2 separate regions of the Homo sapiens genome follow, and region 1 is linked to region 2. Evidence: fine-mapped expression QTL. A gene starts in region 2. The other region holds a variant in brackets. All regions are shown on one strand. Distances are from middle to middle.

The links.
Region 1: its variant is fine-mapped to the expression of CNKSR1 in whole blood (TOPMed, PIP 0.94).

The regions. Positions count from the first base shown.
Region 1 is chr1:26,197,858-26,208,223 of GRCh38, forward strand. CATSPER4 (cation channel sperm associated 4) reads left to right here. Exons shown (of 10, transcript NM_198137.2): 5 at 100-220; 6 at 429-562; 7 at 2,027-2,201; 8 at 2,973-3,184; 9 at 3,497-3,662; 10 at 4,632-5,107. The coding sequence ends at 4,685. Among named protein-coding and RNA genes, the nearest start is that of CATSPER4, 12 kb to the left of the region's middle. RefSeq lists enhancers at 115-614, 3,598-4,570. The variant G/A (reference allele first, on the strand shown) is at 3,536.
Region 2 is chr1:26,171,524-26,182,010 of GRCh38, forward strand. CNKSR1 (connector enhancer of kinase suppressor of Ras 1) reads left to right here and starts at 5,968. Exons shown (of 21, transcript NM_006314.3): 1 at 5,968-6,076; 2 at 8,930-9,087; 3 at 9,192-9,373; 4 at 10,334-10,418. The coding sequence starts at 6,025. ZNF593OS (ZNF593 opposite strand) reads right to left here and starts at 309. Exons shown (of 4, transcript NM_001395468.1): 1 at 247-309; 2 at 94-166. The coding sequence starts at 138.

The DNA of each region.
Region 1 (10,366 bases), 26 kb after region 2:
CTGGAGATCAGCTTTGCCTCTCTGGGCAGCTGGTGGGGGTAATGAGGAGGGAAGGGGCTGGGAAGGGCCTAGGGGCACCCCTGACAGGCTCTGCCACAGGGCGCTTCGTCTGGTGCATGTGTGCATGGCGGTGGAGCCCCTCGCCCGGATCATCCGCGTCATCCTGCAGTCGGTGCCTGACATGGCCAATATCATGGTCCTCATCCTCTTCTTCATGCTGGTCAGTGCCTGCCCCCGCCCCCAGCTGTTTCCCTTCCCTGAACAGGGCCCTTGGGTCATTGCAAATAGAGGGGTGTCTGGAAAAGCAGAGAGGCCTGTGGGCCTGAATCCCTGTGATTTCCTCAGCAGCGTTCATTTACATGACATTTGTGTGTCCTATTTCCAGGCCCTTTGGTGAAGTCGGGGTGGGGCTCTTTTCTCTCTGACAGGTTTTTTCCGTGTTTGGAGTAACACTCTTTGGTGCATTCGTGCCCAAGCATTTCCAGAACATACAGGTTGCGCTGTACACCCTCTTCATCTGCATCACCCAGGACGGCTGGGTGGACATCTACAGTGACTTCCAGTGAGTGCCAGTGGGACTTCCAGCCTCATCCCACCTATGGGGCAGGGTAGCCGGTGGAGCTCCAGGCTGAGAGTGGGAGCTCCAGGGATTGGGATGAGGATGGCCCAGTAGAAGTGGGGGTTCCCAGGTCTTTAAACAGAGGAAAAGGAAATACCTGGACTTGTGATACCTGAAGCCTTGTCACCCTTGAATCTCCATATATTCAGAGTCCCATTCCCACCCTGTAATGGGGACCTCTCCCATCATGCTAACCAGCTGGGTAGTTGGCCTTGGATAAGGCAGCAGGTCTGCAGTTATGCCTCAGGTTACAGAGCAACCTCCCAGCCCACCTTGGAGCCCACCAAACTGCCTGAACTCCTGGGAACTTCAGGTCTCATTTCATTCATTCTTAAACCCACTGCCCACATTCATTTTTGTGTTCTGTTCTTTACCTCTTTTCTATTAAGTCTAAGCCCTATTTCTTTCCAGTTTATTCCAGAAAGTGGGACCCCTTAACTGATTTCTTTTTATCTTCTACATGTGAGTATAGAAGCCCAGTAGATAAAGGGCTTCTACAGTCATTCTCCATTATGGCATAGGTAGTGGATAAAAATCAGGCTGGCCGGGGCCGGGCGCGGTGGCTCACGCCTGTAATCCCAGCACCTTGGGAGGCCGAGGTGGGCAGCTCACGAGGTCAGATCAAGGCTATCCTGGCTAACACAGTGAAACCCCATCTCTACTAAAAATACAAAAACAAAGCCCAGTGCAGTGGCTCACACCTGTAATCCCAGCACTTTGGGAGGCTGAGGCAGGTGGATCACAAGGTCAGGAGTTCAAGACCAGCCTGGCCAAAAAGGTGAAACCCCGTCTCTACTAAATATACAAAAATTAGCCGGACGGTGGGGCGCCTGTAATCCCAGCTACTCAGGAGGCTAAGGCAGGAGAATCGCTTGAACCTGGGAGGCGGAGGTTGCGGTGAACCCATATCACGCCACTGCACTCCAGCTTAGGTGACAGAGTGAGACTCTGTCTCAAAAAAAAAAAAAAAAAATTAGCCAGGCGTGGTGGCAAGCACCTGTAGTCTCAGCTACTTGGGAGGCTGAGGCGGGAGAACGACATGAACCCAGGAGGTGGAGCTTGCAGTGAGCCGAGATCACGCCACTTCACTCCAGTCTGGGCAACACAGCGAGACTCCATCTCAAAAAAAAAAAAAGGAGTGTAGCTAATAGATTAAACTTAATAGTGTTGATGTGCACGTCCCCACCTTGCAGGGTTGGTTAGAGAATCAGCTCACTGTCTGGCAGCACAGTAGGTGCTTAGTAGAGAGCAGCTATTGAGACAGGAGTAGGGAATGGGATCTGCACAACAGCAGTGACACAGGCAGAAGTTCTAGTAGGCCTTGGGATGATTTTCCCATTTCAATGACAAGGAAACTCAGGCTTGAAGGGCCAGGGAAATGATGGGGCCCCTGCCTGCCATCTGCAGGACAGAGAAGAGGGAATATGCAATGGAGATTGGGGGTGCCATCTACTTTACCATCTTCATCACCATCGGTGCCTTCATTGGCATCAACCTGTTCGTCATCGTGGTGACCACCAACCTGGAGCAAATGATGAAGGCAGGAGAGCAGGGACAACAGCAACGAATAACCTTTAGTGAGGTGCGTGGGATGGGGAGGGCAGAAGGGAGGAAAAGGAGTGTGTATGAGAGCGGACTTGAACATATGTGCATGTATGTGTGTGCTTGCATAATCAAGGGCCTGGAGAAAGCCAAGTTGGAGGCCTGGAGGCAGCAGCCCCCCATCTTGAGTGCCCACCCACCAACTGGGGCTTCTGAGGGGTGTGGATTTTCTAGATGTTAGATTTCTATGGCAACTCAAAACTGAGCAGCTGGGTGACCTTGGGGCATTTACCCACTCTAAGCCTCAATTTTTTTCTTTTGTAAAATGGGAATAATAATAGTACTTAACTCATAGGGTTATTTTATGAGGGTTAATGGGTAAATGAACAGTGCTTGGCGCATAGTAAGCACTCAATAAATGTTAGCTACGGTATTATTCATTCAGGGCAGTACTTCCATAAGGTTGGGGAAAGGGGTGGAGTACTTCTAAAAGAGTGGAGTGCTGGAGGCCTGGGCTTGAGGGTAGGCAGGGCTTTATAAATTTGCTGGGTAGGGTTTATCAGGGTTGAAATCTGGGGCAGGGCTAAATTTTGAAATGGGGTGAGAATTTTTAAAGAGGTGGGGGGAGGTCATGTGCATTTAAAGTTGGGTTCCCCCAGCAAGGCAGTGAGGCTAAGATTGGTGAGAGCTGAAATGAGGGCCTTAGAACCCTGGGGTCCTAAGAGACTCATCCTGAAGCCAAGCAGGAAAAGGGTGCCGGGGGCGTGCCTGCCTGAGCTGTCCCGACCCCTCTCTATCCCCCGCTTCCCAGACAGGCGCAGAGGAAGAGGAGGAGAATGACCAGCTGCCACTGGTGCATTGTGTGGTCGCCCGCTCGGAGAAATCTGGTCTCCTCCAGGAACCCCTTGCGGGAGGCCCCCTGTCGAACCTCTCAGAAAACACGTGTGACAACTTTTGCTTGGTGCTTGAGGCAATACAGGAGAACCTGAGGCAGTACAAGGAGATCCGAGATGAACTCAACATGTAGGGGAGGGTACTGGGGCTGCCCCCAAGTCATGTGAGTCAAGGCTGGGCGGAGCGTCAGAGTCTTCTGGCCTCACGCCCTCACCATTTATAAGGCAGAGCCTGGGCCCCACAGAGGTCCCCCACCCTATTGGTGGAGGAACTGGAATCCAGACTCCAGGTTCCTTCCATCTCACACAAGGGCACAGCTCGGCCTGGGTCTCTGTCAGGGCTGCGTGGGAGAGCGAAGCGGGGGTGACGCCAGGGAAGAGGTGGGAGGGCTGCTTCCCTCCCCTGAGGCCTTCTGAAAGGCACTCACTGCTCCACCCCCAGGATTGTGGAGGAGGTGCGCGCAATCCGCTTCAACCAGGA[G/A]CAGGAGTCAGAGGTGTTGAACAGGCGCTCGTCGACGAGCGGGTCGTTGGAGACTACGTCATCCAAGGACATCCGCCAGATGTCTCAACAGCAAGACTTGCTCAGTGCGCTCGTTAGCATGGAAAAGGTGTGCCTTCCTTCTCCTACCCAATGGGTACTCGCCCTGACACTCTGCTCAGCCCAGCCCAGCCGGGCCTCTGGACCATTTGTCAAAGTTTCTGTCTATTCCAAGATCTGGTCCCCCTCACCACCACCACCCCTCCTTTTTTTTCTTTTTTCTTTTTCTTTCTTTCTTTCCTTTTTTTTTTTTTTTTTGAGACGGAGTCTTACTCCATCGCCCAGGCTGGAGTGCAGTGGCGCGATCTCGGCTCGCTGCCACCTCTGCGGCCTGGGTTCAAGCGATTCTCCTGCTTCAGCCTCCCAAGTAGCTGGGATTACAGGTGCTTGTCACTGCACCTGGCTAATTTTTGTAGTTTTAGTAGAGATGGGGGTTTCACCATCTTGGCCAGGCTGGTCTTGAACTCCTGACCTCGTGATCCACCCTCCTTGGCCTCCCAAAGTGCTGGGATTACAGGCGTGAGCCACTGCACCTGGCTGTCTGCCTCTTAAACTTCCATCTGCCTCAGCTGTCACTGCCTATCTGGTTAGGTTCTGCACTTTCCTTCTCGGAAAGGCTCCACCCTTCCTGCCAGTTTCATCTCTAGTGCCTTCAAACCTACCCTTTCTTAGTGTGTGTGGCATGAGCCAGCTCAGTGCCTGCCTAGTGGCAGACACTTAGGCTGTAAGTATAGTGTGGGCACAGGACCCAGGATCCTATCTAAGGTGCACAAAACCAGCTGTCTCCTGAACTCCTGGAGAGAAAAAGGCACACACCCACGTTACTTAGTTTCTTTTTCTGCCCCTCCACACCATCAGCCTGGGATATACCCTGGGCTCCCAAACTCAGAGGGGGTACTAGGTAGGCTCAAGTTAGACCTATGAAGCACTTCTCTGGGAGGCCTGGCTGGGGAAGCTGGTGAGACTGGAGGAGGTGAGTAACGGAGGCTGCCATATCGGGGGGAGTGGGGGATTAACAAGAAGACCTCTTGGTTTGCAGGTTCATGACTCTAGCTCACAAATACTCCTTAAAAAACACAAGAGCAGCCACTGAGAGGCCAGGATGGGAGCCAAGGGGCCTGCACACACACACCCAGCCGCTGCGTCTTCCTGTGTCCTTAGTGTGGCTTGGCAGAGCCTGGCCAGAGCCCATCCTCTCCCTTATACCTGGGCAGAGGCCAGGGGCTGTGAAGGTGGCAGCACCTGCAGGTCTGGTGCCTGTGAGCCCCAGGTCCGGTGGAGCAAGGAGAGAGGAGGATGCTGGATGATGAGAGTGGGAACCCTAGCAGCAAGGATGAGCACAGAAGGGGGTGCTGGCCAACGCAGCCAGGATTTGACCTAAGGATGGGGATCCCTGGCCCCCTGCTCTTGCCCAGAGCTGGTGGGGGGCCTCAGTGGGCCCCAGAACCAAGAAGAGAAAGGCAAGGCCAGTGGGGCCAGACATCTGTGTGTTGACAATAAAGTTTTGTGTTGGAATCAATGTCTCTGACTGGTGGATCTCCAACTCCTTGGGGCACTTGCCTGGGTCTAATAGGAAAGACAGATCTTGCCCCTCAAAATCCCGTTTGTCTGGTGGGAGAGTCACAGGCTGCCCTGAAGAGCATCCAGTCTAATGGGAGGGAGAATTGCACCCCTAAAAATTTCTGACTTAATGGTAGAGATATAACCCTTGCCCTCAGGGTCCTAAGCTTTGTGGAGGAAAGTCTGGTCCTCATGGGAGGGAGCCCCTGTCTGATGAAGGAGATGGCCCTACCTGCTCTCTCCCTGTCTGAAGATGGAGACTGGTCCTCACTCTGGGGAGCCCTTGTCTGATGGGATCACCAATGACCAAGTCACACAAGTACAGGCACCTCCATCCTAGGGCAATGGAGACTGACTACTTAAAATGTGGGTCCTGGCAGCTTCCTAGAGGAGAGGAAGATTTTGCGGGTCAGATGAATGAAGTCTGGTGGGGAACTTAGGACCTGTGAAGCCTATTTGGGATCTTCATACTCAAGGCCACTGAGAGCCTCAGCAGGTTCCTGAGCTATGCAATCTGGGGAGAGTCAGAAAATTGTGGCAGTTATGGGCAATAGAAAGAGCTGCCTTGGAGGACAGGAAACCTCGGTTCTGGTCCTTCAGTGAGTCACTTGGCCTTGTTTTCCCCATCTGTGCGATGGAGAGAGGGTGAGATTGATCTCCATCTCTAAAATCAAATAATCCCCTCTTATCCCAGGAAGTGGAAGACCCATGGGATCAGCTATGTCCCTGGGATGCAGGTGTCAGGGGATAGCCTGGAAGGCCTGGACATCTGCCCTGTTGTTCAGCGAAGCCTGACACTTAGGGGCCGTGGCGATATTCACCAGTTGGAATGGGAGTCCCCAGAGGTCCACTGATTGCAGCTGATGGGAAACCCCACCCCCCATCGTCCTCCCATCAGCATTGGTTCCAACTCTGAAAAGCCCCCTGGGGTCTGTTGGGAAGGAGTCTGGCCCCTGGGGATGGATGGTGCACTCAGTAGGCAGATGAGAGGCAGCAACAGAGCCAGCAGTGCCTTACTGTCTCGGAGCCGTTAATCTATTCCCCTGTTTGAGCCAGGACTTCTTCCCAGCACCCTCCAGGACCATCAGCAGCACAGAGAAGGGCACCCAGCGGATTTTGCTGCTGCTGTTGCTACTTACTGGAGATGGCGCCCTCAACCTGCCTGGTGAGTATCTACATACTCTTTCCACCCATCTTTCTCTGGGGGCCCTCTCAGCCCCTCTTCTTGTTGGCCAGAGAGGGAAGAAGGTGGCAGATCAGATGGTGTCTTCAGGAGGAGCTAACAGTTTGAGTATGGCTATCCTTCACCCCTAACTGTCTGAAAGGCTTGGAGCATCAGTGAGCTTACAGTCAGGAGCACAGCAGGGTGACCTCCATGGAGCTCCTGGCCTTGACCATCTATCTCCTCCAGGATGCTATTTTGTCTATCTACTCCCTTCATCTTGTTTGTCATCTCATCTGTCTCTGCCTTTGTCTTTCCCATCCGGGCCAACCTAACAGCCTGGAGTTTCAGCAGGCTAGTTCCTTCCCAAACTGGCCTGGAACTGAGGGCCCAGGAAGTCATACTCTCCCCTTCCCCTTCCCCTTCCCTACTCCAGCAAAGAGCAACTACCACTCCCCATGCCTTACTGAGCCTGAGTTAGGAGTGGGGCCCCGGATTCTGAGCTCCTAGGACAGTGCGGGGGAAGATATTGGGAGGTGGCTGGAAATTGTGTGTCTCATCACCCCTATGGTCTCACCTGATGGGTTTCCCATCAGCTACAATCAGTGGACCTCTGGGGACTCCCTATGAGTCCATAACTTTTACCAGGGACAGGAGCATCCTTGGCAAACTGTCCAGGAAGCAGACACCAATTCTGATGACAGGAGCAGCAGGGGATAATCATTCCCAATAGCAGTTCTACTCATTGAGTACCTACTAGGTGCTAAGCATGGTGCTGAGTGCTTCACACGCAGTATTTCATCCTCATGACCATCAGTGAAGTGGGTATGAAGAGGATATGTCCCCACGGGGGACTTATCCTCCATCACAGAACTGAGATCCTAACCCAGGTCTGACTTCAGAGCCCAGGTCACACTTCTCAAGGGAGCTTCTGTGGGCAGGAAACCTCAATATCATAAAGATGTCAATCCTCACTGAACCTATAATTGCAGGGCACCTCCAATCACAATTCCAACAGGTTGCTTGTAGAAATTGTTAAGCTGATCCTAACATATGTAAGGAAGAACAAAAGGCCAAGAATAGTCAAGATAATTTTTTTTTTTTTTTGAGACGGAGTTTTGCTCTTGTTGCCCAGGCTGGAGTGCAATGGCACGATCTTGGCTCACTGCAACCTCCACCTCCCAGATTCAAGCAATTCTTCTGCCTCAGCCTTCCGAGTAGGTGGGAGTACAGGCATGCGCCACCAAGCCCAGCTAATTTTTTGTATTTAGTAGAGATGGGGTTTCACCATGTTGGTCAGGCTGGTCTCGAACTCCTGACCTCAAGTGATCTGCCCACCTCGGCTTCCCAAAGTGCTGGGATTACAGGTGAGAGCCACTGCGCCCGGCCTGTCAAGATAATTTTGAAGCACAAGATGGGTGACTCACCCGACCAAATATTGAGGCTTACTATAAAGTAACAGTAAGATAATGTGGTGTTGGTTGGGGGAAAGATGGACTTTTCCATAAGGGGGCAGGGATAACTGATTAACTATATGGAAAAAACATAAAGTCAGATTCAGTGGAAACATCCCTCCCTGCAAATAAAAACTTGAGACCCCTATAGCAAGACATATAGGTTCAGTGCAAACTAGATCTTTGTTGCAAATGGACCCCACAGATGACTAGAGTTTACAATGCTCCTCCACACTGAGCCAAGTCCCTCACTAGGCTAAGAGGAACATGGAGGCCCAGAGAGAGGTGAGACCTTCCCCAGCGTCACCCAGCAAGCCAGTAATAGAGCCAGGTGTAGAGCGTAGGTCCCCCTACCCTTTCCAAGCATCCTTGCCAATTCCCCTGGCCTGTTGCAATCCCTTAGCTCTGCACAGGGCCAGAAGAAAGTGGGTGTGGGACTGGGCAAGGTGGCTCATGCCTACAATCCCAGCACTTTTAGAGGCCAAGGCAGGAGGATTGCTTGAGGCCAAGAGTTTGAGACCATCCTGGGTAATATAGTGAGACCTCATCTCTACAAAAAATAAAAAGAAGGCTGGGTGCAGTGGTTCACGCCTGTAATCCCAGCACTTTGGGAGGCTGAGGGGGGCAGGTCATGAGGTCAAGAGATCAAGACCATCCTGGCCAACATGGAGAAACCCTGTCTCTACTAAAAAAATAAAAAATAAATTAGCTGGGCGTGGTGGCACGCGCCTGTAGTCCCAGCTACTCAGGAGGCTGAGGCAAGAGAATCACTTGAACCCGGGAGGTGGAGGTTTTAGTGAACTGAGATTGTGCCACTTTACTCCAGCCTGGCAACAGAGTGAGAATCTGTCTTTAAAAAGAAAGAAAGAAAGAAAGAAAGAAAGAAAAGAAAAAAATCAGCTGGGCGTGGTGGCATGCGCCTATAGTCCCAGCTACTCGGGAGGCTAAGGCAGGAGAATCACTTGAACCCAGGAGGTGGAGGTTGCAGTGAGCTGAGATTGTGCCACTGCACTCCAGCCTGGTGACAGAGTGAGGAAAAAAAAAATCAACTGGGTGTGGTGCAATGTGTGTGCAATGTGGTGCGCCTGTAGTCCCAGCTACTCGGGAGGCTGAGGCAGGAGAATTGTTTGAACCCAGAAGGCAGAGGTTGCAGTGAGCTGAGATCACGCCACTGCACTCCAGCCTGGTGACAGAGTGAGACTCCATCTCAAATAAATAAATAAATAATAAAAAGAAAAATGTTAGTCGAGTGTGGTGGTGCGCACTTGTAGTCCCAGCTACTCAGGAGGCTGAGGCAAGAGGATCACTTGAGCCCAGGAGTTTGAGGCTGCAGTGAGCCATGATTGCACCACGGCACTACAGCCTGGGCAACTGAGACTCTGTCTCTAAAAAAAAAGTGAGGGTGTGGATGGTGCCAGAAAAGAAGGGTTGGTGCATCTTCAGAATTAGGCGATGGGAAGGACAAAGAATGAGCCTGCCACCTGGGCTGGGTCACTTCCAGTTTTTTTTCTTTTCTTTTCTTTTCCTTTTTTTTTTTTTTTTTGAGTTTTGCTCTTGTTGCCCAGGCTGGAGTGCAATGGCATGATCTTGGCTCATTGCAACCTGTGCCTCCCGGGTTCAAGCGATTCTCCTATCTCAGCCTTCCAAGTAGCTGGGATTACAGGTGTGTGCCACCACGCCTGGCTAATTTTGTGTGTTTTGTAAAGACGAGGTTTCACCATGTTGGTCAGGCTGGTCTCGAACTCCTGACCTCAGGTGATCCTCCCATCTCAGCCTCCCAAAATCCTGGGATTACAGGCGTGAGCCACCATGCCTGGCCAGCCTCCAATTTTCTGAGTTAGCCTTTTGAAAACTGCCAAGAGGCTGGACACGGTGGCTCACGGCTATAATCCAAGCACTTCGAGAGGCTGAGGCGGGTGGATCATTTGAGGCCAGGAGTTCGAGACCAGCCTGGCCAACATGGCAAAAACCCATCTCTACTAAAAACACAAAAATTAGCAGGGCACGGTGGCATGCGCCTGTTGTCCCAGCTACTTGGGAGGCCGAGGCAGGAGAATCACTTGAACCCAGGATGCAGAGGTTGCAGTGAGCCAACATGACGCCACTGCACTCCAGCCTCGGTGACAGAGTGAGGCTGTCTCAAAAAAAAAAAAAAGAAAGAAAGAAAGAAAGAAAGAAAGAAAACTGCCAAGAATGCAAAAACAGCACATCAGGTGATGGGCCTATTTCTGCCCATTACCCAGGGGAAAGAAGAAGGTTTCCAAGGAATCCAGCCCAACATAATTGATTTGGGCCTTTCTAGAGAGAGCAGCTGGCTCAACCATGAGAATAAAGCTGTGTTTTTGTAAGGCAGTGCAGTGTGGTAGGGAAGGCATTGGGTTCTGGTGTCTGATGGACTTTGTTTCAAATGCAGTGGCACCACTTCCTGGCTGTGTGACCTTGGACAGATGTCTTCACCTGTCTGATCCTCAGTTTCTTCATTTGATAAATGGAAATAATAGTCCTTTTCTACAGGTTGGTTGTAAGGATTTAATGTGCCTGTGCATTGGAGCAGCACCTTACCTGGGCAGGGTGACACTTGAACAATATCAAAATGAT
Region 2 (10,487 bases):
CGTGACAGCCTGGCTGTTGGGGGTGTCAACCCAGCTATGGTAGGGGGAGGAAGGGGTCAGTCGTGCCAGAAACCGTTGATCAGGGGTACTTACCTGTAACACCCGGAAGTAACCAGGGGTCAAGCGTCGAAATCGCATGGTGGGCGGCACTGGTCTCCCTGGCGGCCTGTAGGGTGGGAGCGGACGTGAAGACCAGTGGTCTTCATGACACCAAGAAGTGGAAACTAGGGTAGAGGGGTCTCTGACCTTCCACATACGCAAGACCCAAGCTCTCAGAGGATGCTCACCCGCGCCTGCCTGCCCAGGTCTGGCAGGGGGCGGAGCAACTGGACCTTTAAATCTGGTCCCTTCCCCCACTGCCTACCATCCTGCCAGCCTTAGAAGCAGCTGTCAAAAGAGATCAGCATCAGGCTTGAGCGGCACCTCCCCCACTCTCCGAGGAGGCGGGTCCGGTTAGGCAGGAGAGGCCTTGGCTGGCAGTGCTCAGGAGTCCCAGGCCTGGACCAGGTACTGGGCGGGCCTCCCTCAGCCCTGGTCCAGGCCCCATCGCTACCTTAGATGATTGGATGCCACCAATCAGCATTATCGAAGGAAGGATGTGTTATTAGCTCCCACAACAGTATGCCTTTTCCATTTGATTTCTGTGAAATCAACCGCCCCTACCTCAAGGGAGGGCACATATAACCCTTTTTTTTTTTTTTTTTAAGACAGAAGTCTCACTCTGTCACCCAGGCTTGAGTGCAGTGGCATGATCTCGTCTCACTGCCACCCAGGTTCAAGCGATTCTCCAGCCTCAGCCTCCTGAGTAGCTGAAATTACAGGCACCTGCCACCGCGCCCAGCTAATTTTTGTATTTGTAGTAGAGACGGGGTTTCACCATATTGGTCAGGCTGGTCTTGAACTCCTGACCTCATGATCCCCCCGCCTTGGCGTCCCAAAGTGTTGGGATTACAGGTGTGAGCCACTGCGCCCGGCCAATTTAACCCATTTTTTCAAGACAAAGTTTCTTCAGGGACTTCCCTGCCCTCAGCTTGAAACAATAATAAAAGCATATCTGCATATACCAATTAAGGAAGCTGCCCGTGATACGTTAAAAATAGTAGTCATTGTTCTAAGCACTTAACTTGTATTATTTCATTTGCTATCGATTATCTCTTAAATGAAAAAGTATGGCTGGGCAGCACTTTGGGAGGCTGAGGCAGGCAGATGGCTTGAGCCCAGGAGTTCAAGACCAGCCTGGGCAACGTGGTGAAACCTCATCTCTACCAAAAAAAAAAAAAAAAATTTAGCCAGGCATGGTGGTGCATGCCTGTAGTCCCAGCTACTCAGGAGGCTGAGGTGGGAGGATCACTTGAGCCCAGGAGGTGGAGGCTGCAATGAGCTGAGGTTGCACCATTGCACTCCAGCATGGGTGACAGAGCCAGACCCTGTCTCCAATAAAAATAAAAAAGAAAAAGTACAATTTGCAGAATAGTATGTAGACTATCTGCAGATATAGAAAATAGAAGAATATCCCAAATTTAGTAGTGGCCCCCACTGGGGAACATGATAGAGACACACTGGGGAAAGGGCACATCCTTCTTTCACTTAACCTATTACCTTTGAAATGTATACAGCAAATATGTAGAACTTTATATTCATAAAGCTTTTTAAAATAGGCTGGGCATGGTGGCTCACACCTGTAATCCCAGCACTTTGGGAGGCCAAGGTAGGTGAATCACTTGAGGTCAGGAGTCCGAGACCAGCCTGGCCAACATGGCAAAACCCTGTCTCTACTAAAAATAAAAAAATTAGCTGGGTGTGGTGGCGCACACCTGTAATCCCAGCTACTTGGGAGATTGAGGCACGAGAATCACTTGAACCTGGGAGGGAGAGGTTGCAGTGAGCCAAGACTGCGCCACTGCACTCCAACCTGGGCAGCGGAGCAAGACTCTCTCAAAAAACAAAATGAAACCCTTTAAAATAGAAGTTGTCAGCCGGGCGTGGTGGTTTACGCCTGTAATCCCAGCACTTTGAGAGGCCGAGGCAAGGAGATCACTTGAGGTCAGGAGTTTGAGACCAGCCTGGTCAACATGGTGAAACCCCATCTCTACTAAAAATACAAAATTAGCCGAGCATGGTGGCACACGCCTGTAATCCCAGCTACTTGGGAGGCAGAGGCAGGAGAATAGCTTGAACCTGGGAGGCGGAGGTTGCAGTGAGCCAAGATCATGCCATTGCACTCCAGCCTGGGCAACAAGAGCAAAGCTCTGTCTCAAAAAAATAGATAAAAATAAATAGAAGCTGCCACTTACTGTGTTCCTAACTGCCTAACCCTGGCAGATGCTGGGAGCGTAGAGTAAAGGCGCCGTGGTTCAGGGAGAGAGGGGGCTGGTTCTCACCTCTGGTGGCAGCTCAGGAAAGATATTTGATGAAATCAAGATCTGTCTACCGAACACTGATAAAGGCTCTATTAGAATTTACTGGACTTCCCCAGAGTGCCACAGGGAGGCTGCTGCATGAAGAGGCAAAAATGTTAAACGAGGATGCAGCACGGAGTGTTCAAGGGACACAGACCTGAGGCAAAAGACAAAGCTGGAGACGGGCATTTTGCAAATTTGAAGCCAACTGGCTCACAAAATGAAAGAGGCTGTTAATACCAAGTGTGAAGGTGGGATGGCATCACCAGAGCTGGCCAAGTTCAGAGAAGCTGGAAATCTCAATTTGGATGTGACGTTATTAAATGATGACAACACACGTACACTACATGGGCCAACCATGGGCGAAATTCAGACTTTGGGTCTCTGGGTTACAGGTAAGGTCGTGACAGGCTTTGATGACTGGGGGTGCTGCAGAAATTCTGAAGTAGGTGACAACAGGTAGCTCCTCCCCACAGAATTAAAGCAATAATAACTCATATCTACCCCATGATACAGATTTCAAAGTACTTAATGTCATCACAGTGCTAAGGCCTAGGAATCCCCTTCTGGAGACAAAGAAACAGATTCAGAGAGCTGTAGAAGTTGGGCTGAGTCACATAGCAGTTGAGTATGGAACTGATTTTATCTGATTTTTTTTTTTTTTGAGACAGAGTTTTGCTCTTGTTGCCCAGGTTGGAGTGCAGTGGCGCAATCTCGGCTCACTGCAACCTCTGCTTCCGGGTTCAAGCAATTCTCCTGTCTCAGCCTTCCGAGTTGCTGGGATTATAGGCGCCCGCCACCACGACCGGCTAATTTTTTGGATTTTTAGTACAGACAGGGCTTCTCTATGTTGGCCAGGCTGATCTCGAACTCCTGACCTCAGATGATCCACCCGCCTTGGCCTCCCAAAGTGCTGGGATTACAGGCATGAGCCACCGCGCCCGGCCTTTTTTTTTTTGAGGTGGAGTTTCACTTTTGTTGCCCAGGCTGGAGTGCAATGACGCGATCTCAGCTCACCGCTACCTCTACCTCATGAGTTCAAGCAATTCTCCTGCCTCAGCCTCCCGAGTACCTGGGATTACAGGCATGTGCCACCACACCCGGCTAATTTTGTATTTTTAGTAGAGATGGGGTTGCTCCATGTTGGTCAGGCTGGTCTCGAACTCCTGACCTCAGGTGATCCGCCCGCATAGGTCTCCTGAAGTGCTGGGATTACAGGCCTGAGCCACCACGCCCGGCTGATTTTATCTGATTCTAAAGTCCTGGGAGTCCCCTGACCTGATGATGATGATGAAAATGAACATTTACTATGTGTCAGATATTTTTCTAAGATTAAAGCTCTTGCTCTGAGGTTCAGAATTCAGGGGATCCATAAACTTGGATGGGAAAAAATTATATTTTTATTTTTGCTAAACTCTAACCAAAATTTATGATTTCCTTCTATATGGATTGAAGCAGTAGCAGTATCTTTGGCTTAGTCACCAATAGAAATCACATATTTTCATATCAAATTGTAGTTATTGCAAGTATCTCAAAATATTTATGCTCAAGTGATTTCAAAATCACAGTGGTTGTTAAACCACCACTAAATTGTTCGTGAGCAACTTCTGTTTCAGATGCTCCTGTGATGTAGCCGCCATTAATTGGTTACCTCCAGGCTTAGCAGTGGTTCAGTGACCAAAGGGCGAATCTGCCTGTTCTGAGTAGGGCTTCTCCACTCTTCTGCATTCCCTGTCTTTTTTTTTTTTTTTTTGAGACGAAGTCTTGCTCTGTCGCCCAGGCTAGAGTGCAGTGGCGCGAACTCGGCTCACTGCAAGCTCTGCCTCCTGGGTTCACGCCATTCTCCTGCCTCAGCCTCCTGAGTAGCTGGGACTACAGGCGCCCGCCACCATGCCTGGCTAATTTTTTGTATTTTTAGTAGAGACGGGGTTTCACCATGTTAGCCAGGATGGTCTCGATCTCCTGACCTCATAATCCGCCCGTCTCGATTATAGGCGTGAGCCACCATGCCCGGCCCAGCATTCCCTGTTTTTAGTTGTTTGCTGATCAATATGTAAGAGGAGGGGCGTCAAAGACCACCCCACAGTTTAATGTCCTTATTCAAGCTGGTCGACAACACACTGAGGTCATTAAAAAAGAAAAATTTAACTTTCGGCCAGTCTTATTAATGTTAGTAAACACATAATATAAATTTCTGGTTTTATTTTTTTGAGATGGGCTCCTGCTATGTTGCCCAGGGTGGCTTTGACTCCTGGGCTTGAGTGATACTCCCCCGCTCAACCTCTCAACCTCTCGAGTAGCTGGGACTACAGTCGTGTGCCAGCACTCCCCAGCTCCAAATTTTTTTTTTGTTTTTTGTGGGTTTTTTTTTTGAGACGGAGTCTTGCTTTGTTGCCAGGCTGGAGTGCAGAGGCGTGATCTCAGCTCACTGCAACCTCCGCCTCCCAGGTTCAAGCGATTCTCCTGCCTCAGCCTCCTGAGTAGCTGTGACTACAGGCGTGCACCACCACACCCAGCTAATTTTTGTATTTTTAGTAGAGACGGGGTTTCACCATGTTGGGCAGGCTGGTTTCCATCTCTTAACCTCATGATCCACCCGCCTTGGCCTTCCAAAGTGCTGGAATTACAGGCGTGAACCACCATGCCCGGCCAAATTTGTTTTTAAATATAGTTTTGATAATTGTTCTCATTGTAATCCTAAGCATTTTGTTTTGTGCATTTATTTATTTATTTATAATACAGAGTTTTGCTCTGTTGCCCAGGCTGGAGTGCAGTGGCACGATCTTGGCTCACTGGAACCTCCCCCTCCTGGGTTCAAGGGATTCTCCTGCCTCAGCCTCCTGAGTAGCTGGGATTACAAGCACCCACTACGCCCAGCTAATTTTTTGTATTTTTAGTAGAGATGGTGTTTCACCATATTGGCCAGGCTGGTCTTGAACTCCTGATCTCAAGTGATCCGCCCACCTCGGCCTCCCAAAGTGCTGGGATTACAGGCGTGAGCCACCGCGCCCGGCCTGTTTTATGCCTTTATAAGCAGCTATTCTGAGAAAGCATTCACAGGCCTCACCAGATGCCAGAGTCCATACTGCAAAATCCAAGGGAGGCTAAACACCCCAGTTCTAAATGTTTTCAAGCCATTCAGATACTGTGCACAGCTGCCCTTTGAAGTACGGTCTATTATATCTCTTTTACAGACCCAGAAACTGAGGCGCAGAAGTTAGGGTCAGCCCCAGGTCACACAGCTAACAAGAGCTGGCCTAGGCACCCAGGGACCTGGCCCCCTAGCCTCTGTGCTTTGCTACTGATTTCAGCGCTCCTCTTGTGGCTTTTTCTTGAGGAGCCCAAGGGTCAGGGTCCCACCCCGCGATATGAGGCCAGTGGCACTGCCCCCTAGCAGGCGCGAGATGCCAGAGCCCTAGGATGTCTGAAGGGCCGGGCAGGAGGCGGACGGGCGTGGGCCAATGGCTGTCGCAGTGCCTCATCTTGCCGTCTGTGTGAGCCCAGGTATGCAGTAGGCTCCGCCCAGGACCCAGCCCGGCCCCTCCTTAGGCCTGGGCTCTGGGAGCGGAAATTCCGGCGACAGCAGGGCAAAACAGGAGCTGATTCGAGCTGGCAGAGCTGGGCCATGGAACCGGTAGAGACCTGGACCCCCGGAAAGGTGGCAACTTGGCTGAGAGGTGGGTGGGGCTGGGGTAGAGTTGGGCTTGAAGGGGACTAGGTGTGGTGTCCCACCGGGAAGCGGGAGGAGAGGAAAAGGAAAAAAAATCTGCGGACTGGGTGCGCTGGTTCACACCTGTAATCCCAGCACTTTGGGAAGCCAAGGTGGGTGGGTCACCTGAGGTCGGGAGTTCAAGACCAGCATGGTGAAACCCCGTCTCTACTAAAAATACAAAAATTATCTGGGGGTGGTGGCAGGTGCCTGTAATCCCAGCTACTTGGGAGGCTGAGGCAGGAGAATCGCTTGAACCCAGGAGGCAGAGGTTACAGTGAGCCGAGATTGCACCGCTGCACTCCAGTCTGGACGACAGAGCGAGATTCAGCTCAAAAGAAAAAAAAAAATAATAAACTGCGGGCTCTATCAGTCGGTCAGTCAGTCAACAAATATTTACAGAGCACCTAACATGTTCCAGGAACCGTGCTGGGCAGAGAGACAGATGAGATGACCCTGGGGGGCCCAAGGACCCAGAAGGGGGCCCCTCATCATGGCAGTAGCCCAAGAGGCCTCTAGGGTGATAATGGGGAGGCGGTGTCATGAAAACAGGAGGGAGGCCTGACAGGCCCACACCCACTGTATCTCCTTCATCTTCCCTGGCCCCAGGGCCAGTGGGCTGTTGTTAAATCCGTTTCTTAGAGTCAGAAACTGACACACAGAGCCAGGAAATGATTTGCTCAGTCTCTGGTGTCATTTTCCCCGCTCCACACCCTGAGCTCCTAGTGACAGAAGCAGAAGCCCTAGGCCAGACTGAAGAGGTTGACACAGCCCCACCCTGGGGCTCCTATCCAAGGGGCAAGGTGCTGTCCAGGCTCAGCGAGCCCACACAGATGGGAAGCAACACACCCCACAGGCAGACTCAGAGAAGGAAGGGCCTCCTGACACACAGTGCGACCAGGAGCAGGCAGTCAGGACACCCCTCCCAGAGTGGGGAGCTGGAGCGCACTAGAGACAGGCTCAGGAGGACCAGCCCGGGTAAGGGCAGGAATTCAGGGCTGGGTTCAGACTCCCAGGCTGGATTCCAGGCCCACCCCCACCGCTTGCCAGCTCTGTGACCATAGGTCTTAGTTTTTCTGTCCATCAAATGGGAAAGGCAACTCTGACCTTATGAAGTCGACAAAGTGAGACAATCATGACATAGTTCATTTGTAGCTCAATGCCTGGGTCTATTGGGAGGGCACCAGCCCAATACAGTCACCGTGCAGGAAGGAGGTGGCTCAGGGGCCCATAGCCAGGGAGTGATAGGTTCATGAACTCCCAGTCCAGTGCTCTCAATGTGACACAGGGAACACACACACACACCTCCCCCAGTGAAGGAGCCTGGCTTAGAAGGGGAAGAATTCCTTCGAAGAGTGAGCAAGCTACTTAACCTCTGTGTCAGTTTTCCCATCTGTAAGCAGGATAATGATAGTCTTTACCTCCTAGAAATGCAGTGAGAATCAAATGTGTTAATATGTGTAAAGCTCTTATAGATTTGCATAGCACATAGTAAGCCCTCAATAGACACTTTTCTTATTTTTCAGTGCCTACCTTGTCCAGGCACAGGCCGGGGGTTAGAGACAAATGGTTATCTAAGGCCTGATCTTTGAAGAGCCTGTGATAAAATGGGAAAGACCGATGGTCAAGTGCAGGGGTTTGTGGAGGCTCAGGGGCAGTGGGAACAAGAGGAGAGCCCTCCATCCCACTCAGCCTGGGAAGTTATGGAAGGCTTCCTGGAGGAAGTTAGATGAAAAAGGAAGTGAAGGAGATAGAAGAGCAACGCCAGCAGGAGGAATAGCACTTGCAAGGACGCTGAGGTAAAAGGGTGTTCCAGGAGCTGCAAGGAATTAGCTCTGTGCATCTGAAATGTTGAGTTTAGGGGGCTCTTCAGGATATGATGCTGGAAAGGGAGGTAGTAGCCTAATCATACAGGGCCTGTAGGTCATGGTAAAGTCTGGCAATAATAATATGATGGCTATTATTGGCTGTCTCCCACGAACCAGACAGTGGCCAAGGCCTTGACATATGTTGTGTCATTCAATACACACATGATTAGAAGGTAGGTACTTTTATTATTCTCACATTACAGGTGAGAAAACTGGGCACAGAGCAGTGCTATTACTTGCTCAAGTGTTCACAGTGTCTCAGTGACTCCATAGCCTCTTGTTCTTATCCCCTGTATCATTAGTTCTCAAACTTAAGGGAGCATCACAGTCACCTGCATTAAAATACAAACTGCTGGCTGGGCGTCGTGGCTCACACCTGTAATTCTAGCACTTTCAGAGACTGAGGCAGTCAAATTGCTTGAGCCCAGGAGTTCGAGACTAGCCTGGGCAACATGGTGAAATCCCACCTCTGCAAAAAATACAAAAATTAGCTGGGTGTGGTGGTGTGTGCCTGTAGTCCCAGCTACTTGGGAGGCTGAGGTGGGAGGATGGATTGAGCCTAGGAGGTCAAGGCTGCAGTGAGCCGTGACTGTGTCTCAAGCCCCTGTCTCAAAAAGAAAAAACAAAACAAAAACAAAAAAAAGACTGCTGGGCCCCAACCTCAGAGTTTCTGATTCAGCAGGTGTGGGGTGAGGCCTGATAATTTGCATTTCTAACAAGTTCTCCGGTGAGTCTGCTGCTGCTGGTCTGGGGGCCACTTTTAAGAACCCATGTCCTATACTTTCCTGCTTCTCAACTCAGTGGCCTCATCTGTGAAATGGGCAGAACAGCCTGGGTGTCAGAGTTGTCATTAGGGTTAGACTAGAGGGAAAAGAGCTTTGCAGGCATGAAGAACCATCCCAAAAGGTCCTGACACCTCTGCTTCCCCGAGCTGAGCCTTACTCTCCCTCCAGGTCTTGACGACTCCCTGCAGGACTATCCCTTTGAGGACTGGCAGCTGCCTGGCAAGAACCTGCTCCAGCTCTGCCCCCAAAGCCTCGAGGCTCTGGCTGTGCGGTCTCTGGGACACCAGGAGCTCATCCTGGGCGGGGTGGAACAGCTCCAGGCCCTGGTGAGTGAATGCTGGTCACACTGGCTGCAGCTTCCACCAACCTGGGGGGTGTGATGGGGGGCTGGCTGCTGCCAGGGAGGTGACTTGCCCTCTTTCTGGCACAGAGCTCCAGGCTACAGACAGAGAACCTGCAAAGCCTGACAGAGGGACTTCTGGGGGCAACCCATGACTTCCAGAGCATAGTCCAAGGCTGCCTGGGGGACTGTGCCAAGACCCCTATTGATGTCCTCTGTGCAGCTGTGGAGCTGTTGCATGAAGCTGACGCCCTCCTCTTCTGGCTCAGCAGGTACCCGGGTTGGGGTGACGAGTGAGGGACTATTGTCATCCTTGGCCTCCTTCAGGGCGTGGGAGAGAAAAACAGATCTTGGCTCTTGTTCAGATATGGTGAGCCAGGCGTGGTGGCTTAGGTCTGTAATCCCAGCACTTTGGGAGGCCGAAGCGGGCAGATCACTTGAGGTCAGGAGTTGGAGACCAGCCTGGCCAACATGGTGAAACCCCATCTTTACCAAAAATATACAAAATTAGCCAGGTGTGGTGGTGCGCACCTGTAATCCCAGCTACTGGGGAGGCTGAGGCAGGAGAATCACTCAAACCTGGGAGGTGGAAGTTCCAGTGAGCCGAGATCATGCCACTGTACTCCAGCCTGGGCGACAGAGTGAGACTCCCTCTCAAAAAAAAAAAAAAAAAAAAAAAAGATATGGTGGAGCAGGGCAGAGGGATTAATCCACCTGTGCAGGGGCACTGGGATGCCAGAGTTCCCACCCCACCCTCCAGCTTGTAATAATCGATCTCATCAACAACCACTGAATGGAGAGCCTCCCCAACCCTGTGCACTGGCTGCTGCTTGTCCTACAGACCCCACCTCAAATGTCATCTCGGGGAAGCCTTCCCTGTTGTACACTCTCCAAGCTATACTATTAATAAATAATAAATAATAACTTATTATAAACTCATTATCCAATGTTTCATGATACTCATTACAGCCAAAGTTAAATTGATATTGATGTATGATGTCTTTACTGTCTGTTTCCCCAGTGCCTAGAACAGGGCTTGGCATGTGGTAGGCACATGACAAATAAGTCCTGTGCTAATCTCTTTAGATGTCTCAATCATCTCCTTTACTCTAAACCAAAACCCATCAGAGCAGGTATTATCCCCAAGTCTCTGAGGTGAGTAATTGGTGAGTAATTGGCTCTGAGTGGTTAAGCATAGTCCCTTAACCACTGTGCTATTCTTCCCCTGCCAGGTACCTCTTCTCCCACTTAAATGATTTCTCAGCATGCCAGGAGATCCGAGACTTGTTGGAGGAGCTGAGCCAGGTCTTGCATGAGGTAGGAGAACCAAGGGCCAGGCTTGGCCCATGCCCTAGAGACCAAGCTGGGCTAGAGCTTTTTATAACC